2 linked regions of the Homo sapiens genome follow. The protein of the gene in region 1 purifies or fractionates together with the protein of each later gene. This does not show direct contact. Each region holds a gene or a part of one and is shown on either strand. Other genes may lie near its edges.

Region 1 (3,815 bases):
CCTATGTGAACCCAGTTATACATGAACGCCCCTCCCCCAAGTCTGACACAGCTTCTTAAGTCCACACACCAGAAATCCAGACCCACTCCCAGAATCCTGATACAGAGCTACAACCCTTAGCCCACAGAAACACTAACTTCTGTGTGCACTGTTACTGCACAAGGCCCTGACACACCTGAAAGTGATTACAGAAACTGACCCTTCAGAAGACCCCGTGCACATCTACAGACCTGACTCACCCCTGAACATCGCAGTGCTCTGAAGATTCTGATATACAACTGAGGCCCTCAAACCCCTGCAGCCTGACCTATACCATAAAAGCTTAAGCATGGGGTCTCTGGCCACACCCGAGGCCCTTGTGCCCCTTATCCTGGCACACAACCAAGCCTTCCTTGTGCATGACACACACAAGAGACAGCAATGGGGGAGTCTCTCTGGAAGAGGCAGGGATTTTCCTCCTTCCTGGAGAGCTGCCTCTGCTTCCCTGAATCCCTCGCTGATGGGTCCCTGGATTACAGGACTAGGAGCCTGGAGACACGAGCTAAATCCAGAAGGGAAAGGGCAGGCAGTGGTTGGGTTGGCATGCATGATAGTGAGGGTTCCTCTGTGTCCCCTCCACTCCAAGCTGTTCCTTATGTTCAGGCCTAAGCTGTTCTCAGGCCATGTGTAAAGCCCAGTTTCACTGCTTCCTCCTCCTCAGAGACCTGAACTCCTCACAGGCAGGGACGGACCATGTCTTCTTAGTCTGCCCTCTCCAGGGTGCTCGGCTACATGCCAGGCCCATGGGAGGGCTGAATGAGGAGTGGATCAACTAACAAACGGATGGGAAGACAAGTGTCTAAGTACCTGGGACAGAAGAATGGATGAGTGGATGGCCTGAAGAACAGATAGGTAGTAGATGGGAGAATGGAATAGCAGGTAGATAGATGGGTAGGTGGATCTGTGGAAGGATAGGTAGGCAGGGAGTGGATAGATGGATGGGGAGTATGGAGCTGACATCAGGTAGATGAATGACGAGATTAACAATGGGTGACAGGTGGGAGGATGGAAGGATGAGTGGAAGGGTGGGTGGGTGAATCGGTAGATCAGAGAGTGGGTGAATACGTGGGTGGATGAGTGGATGGATGGCTGGTGGATGGATGGATAGATGGGTAGATGTGAATCATACACAGATGTGTGGATGAACCAGTAGGTGCGTGGATGAATAGATAGGTAGAAGGGCAGATAGGTGGAAGGGCGGATGGGTGGAGGATAAATGGGTGGGAGAGTGGAGGTAACCACAGTACTTACCTGAGGCCTCTTCCTCTACTGCCTGAATAGGGTATGACTTCCACTCAGACTTCACCACCAGCTTGAGAACGTTGCGGGCAGCAGTCAGCCAGAAGTCCTCTGCTCCCAGGCCAGGGGATACCCTGCTCAGCCCCTAGGCTTGAGGCCTGTTCTGGTTCCAGAACCTGATCATGACTTGCCCCATTTTGGATCCAGAACCTGACTCTACCTTTTCTGACTCTAGAGCCTGAGTTTAGAACTTGCTCCTGTTTCAGGCTGGTCACGGTGGCTGACGCCTGTAATCCCAGCACTTTGGGAGGCTGAGGTGGATGGATCATGAGGTCAGGAGATCGAGACCATCCTGGCTAACACAGTGAAACCCCGTCTCTACTAAAAATACAAAAAATTAGCCAGGCGTGATGGCGGGCGCCTGTAGTCCCAGCTACTCGGGAGGCTGAGGCAGGAGAATGGCGGGAACCTGGGAGGCGGAGCTTGCAGTGAGCCAAGATCGCGCCACTGCACCCCAGCCTGGGTGACAGAGCGAGACTCCGTCTCAAAAAAAAAAAAGAACTTGCTCCTGTTTCAGTTGTGTAACCAGACCCCAAATCTGACCTGACTTGGATCATATTCTGCCTTCAGAATCTGGCTTGGACCCATTGTCTGATTTGTTTCTTCTGTTCATCACCTACTTTTGATACTTATTCTGTCCTGAGAACCAGACTGTGTCCTAGTTCAGATTCTGAATGTAATTTAAATCTAGCATAGAATCTGGATCCAAATTCTAACCTGAATTTAGAACATATTGTGGAATCGGAACCTAGTCTGCCTTAGAAATCCAAAGCCTGCAGCCTTTTTTGGAACCCAATTCAACAAATGGAACTTGATATAAGCCTGGAATCTGTTCTGGATTCCAAACTCAAGGGACTGACCAACTTTTAGAACCTGCTCTAGAATATAAGCCAAGCTACCCAAGCTTTTCTGGAGGTCAGAGTTGACCAAGCTAAGAGGCTTATTAAGGGAGGGCACATTAGGGAAGGATAAGGATTGAGGGTGGAAAGGGAAATCTGCTGGGGCAGGCAGATGAGGGCATGAAGAGAGGCCTGTTTCTCTCCAATATGAGCCAGAGCTTCAGCCCTGCTCTGTCAGCCTGAGGTTCAGGCATAGGGCTGGGGGTCTCCTTACCTATGAAGGCTTTTTTGTCATCCTCAGCCCCCAGGCAGTAGCAGCGTGGGAAGAAGGAGTTGGCATCAACCTCATCAAACCACGGCAAATTCCGGAGATTGAGACATAGACCCACCTACGGAGTTAGCCACTGAGAGGGCAGGGCAGGACTGCCCACACTCACCACACACCCAGACAGTTCAGAAAGACTCTGACTGGATCTGCGCTCAGAGCCTTGGCCCCGCTTGCAAGGTCTGAGTTGCTCACATCTATCACCATATATTTGCCTGGGAGGTGTCCTTTGCCAAGAATGCCTGATGTCCCTCCTGTCCCCCCTTTCACATTCTTTTTTTTTTTGAGATGGAGTCTCACTCTGTCACCCAGGCTGGAGTGCAGTGGCGCGATCTCGGCTCACTGTAAGCTCTGCCTCCCGGGTTCACACCATTCTCCTGCCTCGGCCTCCAGAGTAGCTGGGACTACAGGCGCCCGACACCACATCCAGCTAATTTGTTGTATTTTTAATAGAGACGGCATTTCACCGTGTTAGCCAGGATGGTCTCGATCTCCTGACCTGGTGATCTGCCTGCCTCGGCCTCCCAAAGTGCTGGGATTACAGGCGTGAGCCACTGTGCCCGGCCCACCCTTTCTCATTCTTAAAGAGCTGCCAAGGCCGAGCGCGGTGGCTCACACCTATAATCCCAGCACTCTGGGAGGCTGAAGTGGGAGGACTGCTTGAGGCCAGAGGCCAGGAGTTCAAGACCAGCCTAGGCAGCATAGCAAGACCTCATCTCTTAAAAATAAAAAAAGAGCTGCTTCCTCTAGAATCCTTCCTAACCCACACCAATAATATAATGGCAGGTCATTATTATAAAGCCCTTCATCCTTGCCACAACCCCAGAAGATGGGCCTTACTGGTATTCTCATTGAAAGATGAGGAAATTGAGGCTCAGAGAGGTGAAGTCACTTGCTAAGAACACCAGGTAAGGCTGCGCATGATGGCTCGTGCCCGAAATCCCAGCACTTTGGGAAGCTGAAGCAGGTGGATCACCTGAGGTCACCAACATGGTGAAACCCCATCTCTACTAAAAAATACAAAAATCAGCCAGGTGTGGTGACACGCACCTGTAGTCCCAGCTACTCAGGAGGCTGAGGCAGGAGAATTGCTTGAACTGGGAGGCAGAGGTTGCAGTGGGCTGAGATTGCACCACTGCACTCCAGCCTGGGAGACAGAGCAAGACTCTGTCTCAAAAAAAAAAAGAAACCCAGGTAAGACAGAATGGGTCCATTAGCCAGATATCTTCTGCTTAGGAGGTAAGAGTCCGTTTGCTCACTATCATTGGATTTGGTGATTGTTCTACCTCCAGACCCATTTTAGACATCATATC
Region 2 (3,815 bases), on another chromosome or scaffold:
TCTGGATCACAAACTGCTTCCATTTTTTTGTTTTGTTTTTGTTTGTTTTTTGAGATGGAGTCTTACTCTGTCGCCCAGGCTGGAGTGCAGTGGTGTGATTTCAGCTCACTGCAACCTCCACCTCCCCGGTTCAAATGATTCTCATGCCCTAGCCTCCCAAGTAGCTGGGATTACAGGCATTTGTGACCACACCAGGCTAACTTTTATTTATTTATTTATTTTGAGACAGAGTCTCGCTCTGTCGCCCAGGCTGGAGTGCAGTGGTGTGATCTCGGCTCACTGCAAGCTCCGCCTCCCGAGTTCACACCATTCTCCTGCCTCAGCCTCCCGAGTAGCTGGGACTACAGGCACCCGCCACCACGCCCGGCTAATTTTTTGTATTTTTTTAGTAGAGACGGGGTTTCACTGTGTTAGCCAGGATGGTCTCGATCTCCTGACCTTGTGATCCGCCCACCTCAGCCTCCCAAAGTGCTGGGATTACGGGCGTGAGCTACTGCGCCCGGCCTCTTTTGTATTTTTAGTAGACACGGGGTTTCACCATGTTGGCCAAGTTGGTCTTGAACTTCCAACCTCAGGTGATCCGCCCACCTCAGCCTCCCAAAGTGCTGGGATTACAGGTGTGAGCCACAGCACCAGGCCTCATTTTTGAGTCCCTCACAGTGCCTAGCGCAGTACCTTGCAAAGAAAAGGAAACTTACAGGCCAGGCACACTGGCTCATGCCTGTAATCCCAGCACTTCAGGAGGCCAAGGAGGGAGGATCACTTGAGGCCAGGAGTTCAAGACCAACCTGGGCAATGTAGCAAGACCCCGTCTCTACAAAGAATAAAGACAATTTTAAAAAAATTAGCCAGGTGTGGTGGCATATACCTGTAGTCCCAACTACTCTGGAGGCTGAGGCTGGAGGATCGCTTGAGCCCAGGAATTGGAGGCTGCAGTGAGCTATGATGGTGCCACTGCACTCCAGCCTGGGTGAGAGTGAGACCCTGTCTCAAAACAACAACAACCACAACAAAACAAAAAACAAAGAAAGAGAACCTAAAATTATTTGTTGAAGGATGAAGAATGCACGGCTCAAGTTTATCAGTTCTCACTGGTTCCCACCTGCATTTGAAGTCACATGATCCTGCTGCCAGCAAAACGTTGTTGGGATGCCAATCCAAGCTGAGGACTGTGGAGCGAATCGGCTTTTTAATGTGCTTGCTCACCCACCTATGAGAGGGGAAAACTGTTTCAGTTTATCCACTCAACCAGCATCCCCAAATGACCTACAAATGTATGTCAGGTGAAAATACCTAAGTAGGCCACACTTTTCCTTAATTTAAAAAAAAATTATAAAACAATTCAGAATATTATTTTTTTCAGAATAAACTTTTTCAGATAGGTTTCTATAAAAAAAGATTCTATAGAAAAGTAACAGAGCATTCAACGTTCTTCTGTCGGTCACCAGGCCTTCTGCCAGAGACAAGGTTTTTTGATACCAGGTTATGATCTGAGACTGGCTAATTTTTGTATTTTTTGTAGAGATGAGATTTCTCCATGTTGCCCAGGCTGGTCTCAAACTCTGGGGCTCAAGTGATCTACCGGCCTCAGCCTCCCAAAGTGCTGGGATTACAGGCATGAGCCACTACGCCCAGCTGACAAGGTGCATTGCTAAAGGACAGAAAGGAAAAGAACCATGAACAGGCCTTCTCCACTCCTGGCCCTGATGTTCTCAGCACAACAGCTGGTTTTCAGCAGTCCTCATTAGTAAGCATAGATATTGATTAACTCAGTTATGTTTTCGTGAGATTTCGGATTACATAGGACGTTAACCTCTGAGATAAAAACTGAAGTTTGAAAATACTTCAATTTTTATTATGAATATTCAGTGATTTGCTGAATTTTTGGTGAATTTGGGGTTGTAAGACAGCTTAATATCCTTCCCAAGTCTCCACGAATCTGCAAATTCTTTTTAATTTCTTTCACTGAAAAATCACAACCAAGAAATTAGAAGAACCTCATGTTGGGGATTAGCCTCTAATTCGCTAGCACCATCCAAAAAAGATGATTTATGTCTAGGACCAGTCAGTATTTTGGCTTAACTAATTCATTTCTGCCCCCAAACTGCTGTTTAAAAACCAATCACGTCTGGTTGCTCAACAGTTGGGAGACTAAATATTGAGCCAATGCCTTTCCTTCAATGCTAAATTACCTTTCTATAGAATCACTTTCTTTCTTTTTTTTTTTTTTTTGAGATGGAGTTTCGCTCTTGTTGTCCAGGCTGGAGTGCAATGGCGTGATCTCAGCTCACCGCAACCTCCACCTCCCGGGGTCAAGCAAGAATCACTTTCTTTTATTTATTTATTTTTTATTTTTTTGAGACAGAGTCTTACTCTGTCATCCAGGCTGGAGTGCAGTGGCGCAATGTCAGCTCACTGCAACCTCTGCCTCCTGTGTTCAAGCAATTCTTGTGCCTCAGCCTCCCGATAGCTGGGATTATAGGCTCACGCCACCACGCCCGGCTAATTTTTGTAATTTTAGAGGAGATTAGCTTTCACCATGTTGGCCAGGCTGGTCTCAAACTCCTGGTCTCAGGTGATCTGCCTGCCTTAGCCTCCCAAAGTGCTAGGATTACAGGCATGAGCCACCACGCCTGGCTACAGAATCACTTTCTTAGTATCCTGTCTGAAGAAGTTCATTCTGAAAAAGACAGCCAGGTGCAGAGGCTTGCAACTATACTCCCAGCACTTTGGAAGACCAAAGCAGAAGGATTGCTTGAGTACAGGAATTTGAGATCAGCCTGGGCAAGAAAAGTGAGAACCTGTCTCCACAAGTAATCAAAAAATTAGCCAGGTGTGGTGGTGCAAACCTGTAGTCCCAACTACTTGGGAGGCTGAAGTGGCAAGACTGCTGGATCCCAGGAGTTGGAGACTGCAGTGAGCCGTGTTTGTACCACTGTACTCCAGACTGGGTGACAGAGAGAAACCCTGTCTCAAAAAATAAATAAATAAATAAAATAAAAAACCAAAATCCCCCACAAAGTCTCTAAAAAAGGAGAAAAAGACAGTATTTCGAATTGTTTCATAATGTATACATATTTTTTGAGACAGAGTCTTGCTCTGTTGCCCAGGCTGGAGTGCAGTGGCATGGTCTCGGCTCATTGCAACCTCTACCTCCCTGGTTCAAGCGATTCTCCTGCCTCAGACTCCCAAGTAGCTGGGATTATAGGCATGCACCACCACACCTGGCTAATATTTTGTATTTTTAGTAGAGATGGGGTTTCTCCATGTTGGCCAGGATGGTTTCGAACTCTTGACTTCGTGATCCGCCTGCCTTGGCCTCGCAAAGTGCTGGGATTGCAGGCGTGAGCTACCGTGCCTGGCCTTTATAATGTAATTTTTTTAATTAAGGAAAAGATGGCAAGCAAAATAATTAGTTCATATGGCTGAATTATAAACTTCTGAGAAGTTGTTTTAAAGTACTCCTATGAAATATGAAATAATTGTTCTACAGCTGAGAAACTGCCCTAAACATACAGCTTGTTCAAAGACAATACCTTGTACCATAATAAAGTCCAATTTACCTATACTTGACACTAATTCTCAACGAATAAAAATGTAAACAATTACTGAGGTTGAAGCTTAACTTGGAAGAAAAGTTTCCTGTAGAAATTTGTAAGATTGCAAGGAGTACCAGCTGACATAAAGTTTAGCCTTGAGAGAATATTAATGAAGTTAGTTTCCTATCTCATTACAATGAAACTTCCAAATAGTTTCTAGCAGGTAACATTTTGTTAGCCTTGATTTCACATTTGAAAGAAAAATGTATGTTTCAA

The links.
Region 2: the proteins of ARPC4-TTLL3 (region 1) and ARPC1A fractionate together in Homo sapiens (co-fractionation; one large-scale study listed by BioGRID). This does not show direct contact.

What each region holds. Positions count from the first base shown.
Region 1 is NC_000003.12:9,816,396-9,820,210, reverse strand, and holds part of ARPC4-TTLL3 (ARPC4-TTLL3 fusion protein), read right to left. Parts: intron 2,567-3,815; coding exon 2,452-2,566; intron 1,657-2,451; exon of another isoform or gene 1,390-1,656; coding exon of another isoform or gene 1,291-1,389; intron 1-1,290. Other genes in the region: tubulin monoglycylase TTLL3, read right to left, coding at 1,291-1,389, 2,452-2,566.
Region 2 is NC_000007.14:99,346,247-99,350,061, reverse strand, and holds part of ARPC1A (actin-related protein 2/3 complex subunit 1A), read right to left. Parts: intron 1,211-3,815; coding exon 1,103-1,210; intron 1-1,102. UniProt on the Homo sapiens protein: Probably functions as a component of the Arp2/3 complex which is involved in regulation of actin polymerization and together with an activating nucleation-promoting factor (NPF) mediates the formation of branched actin networks.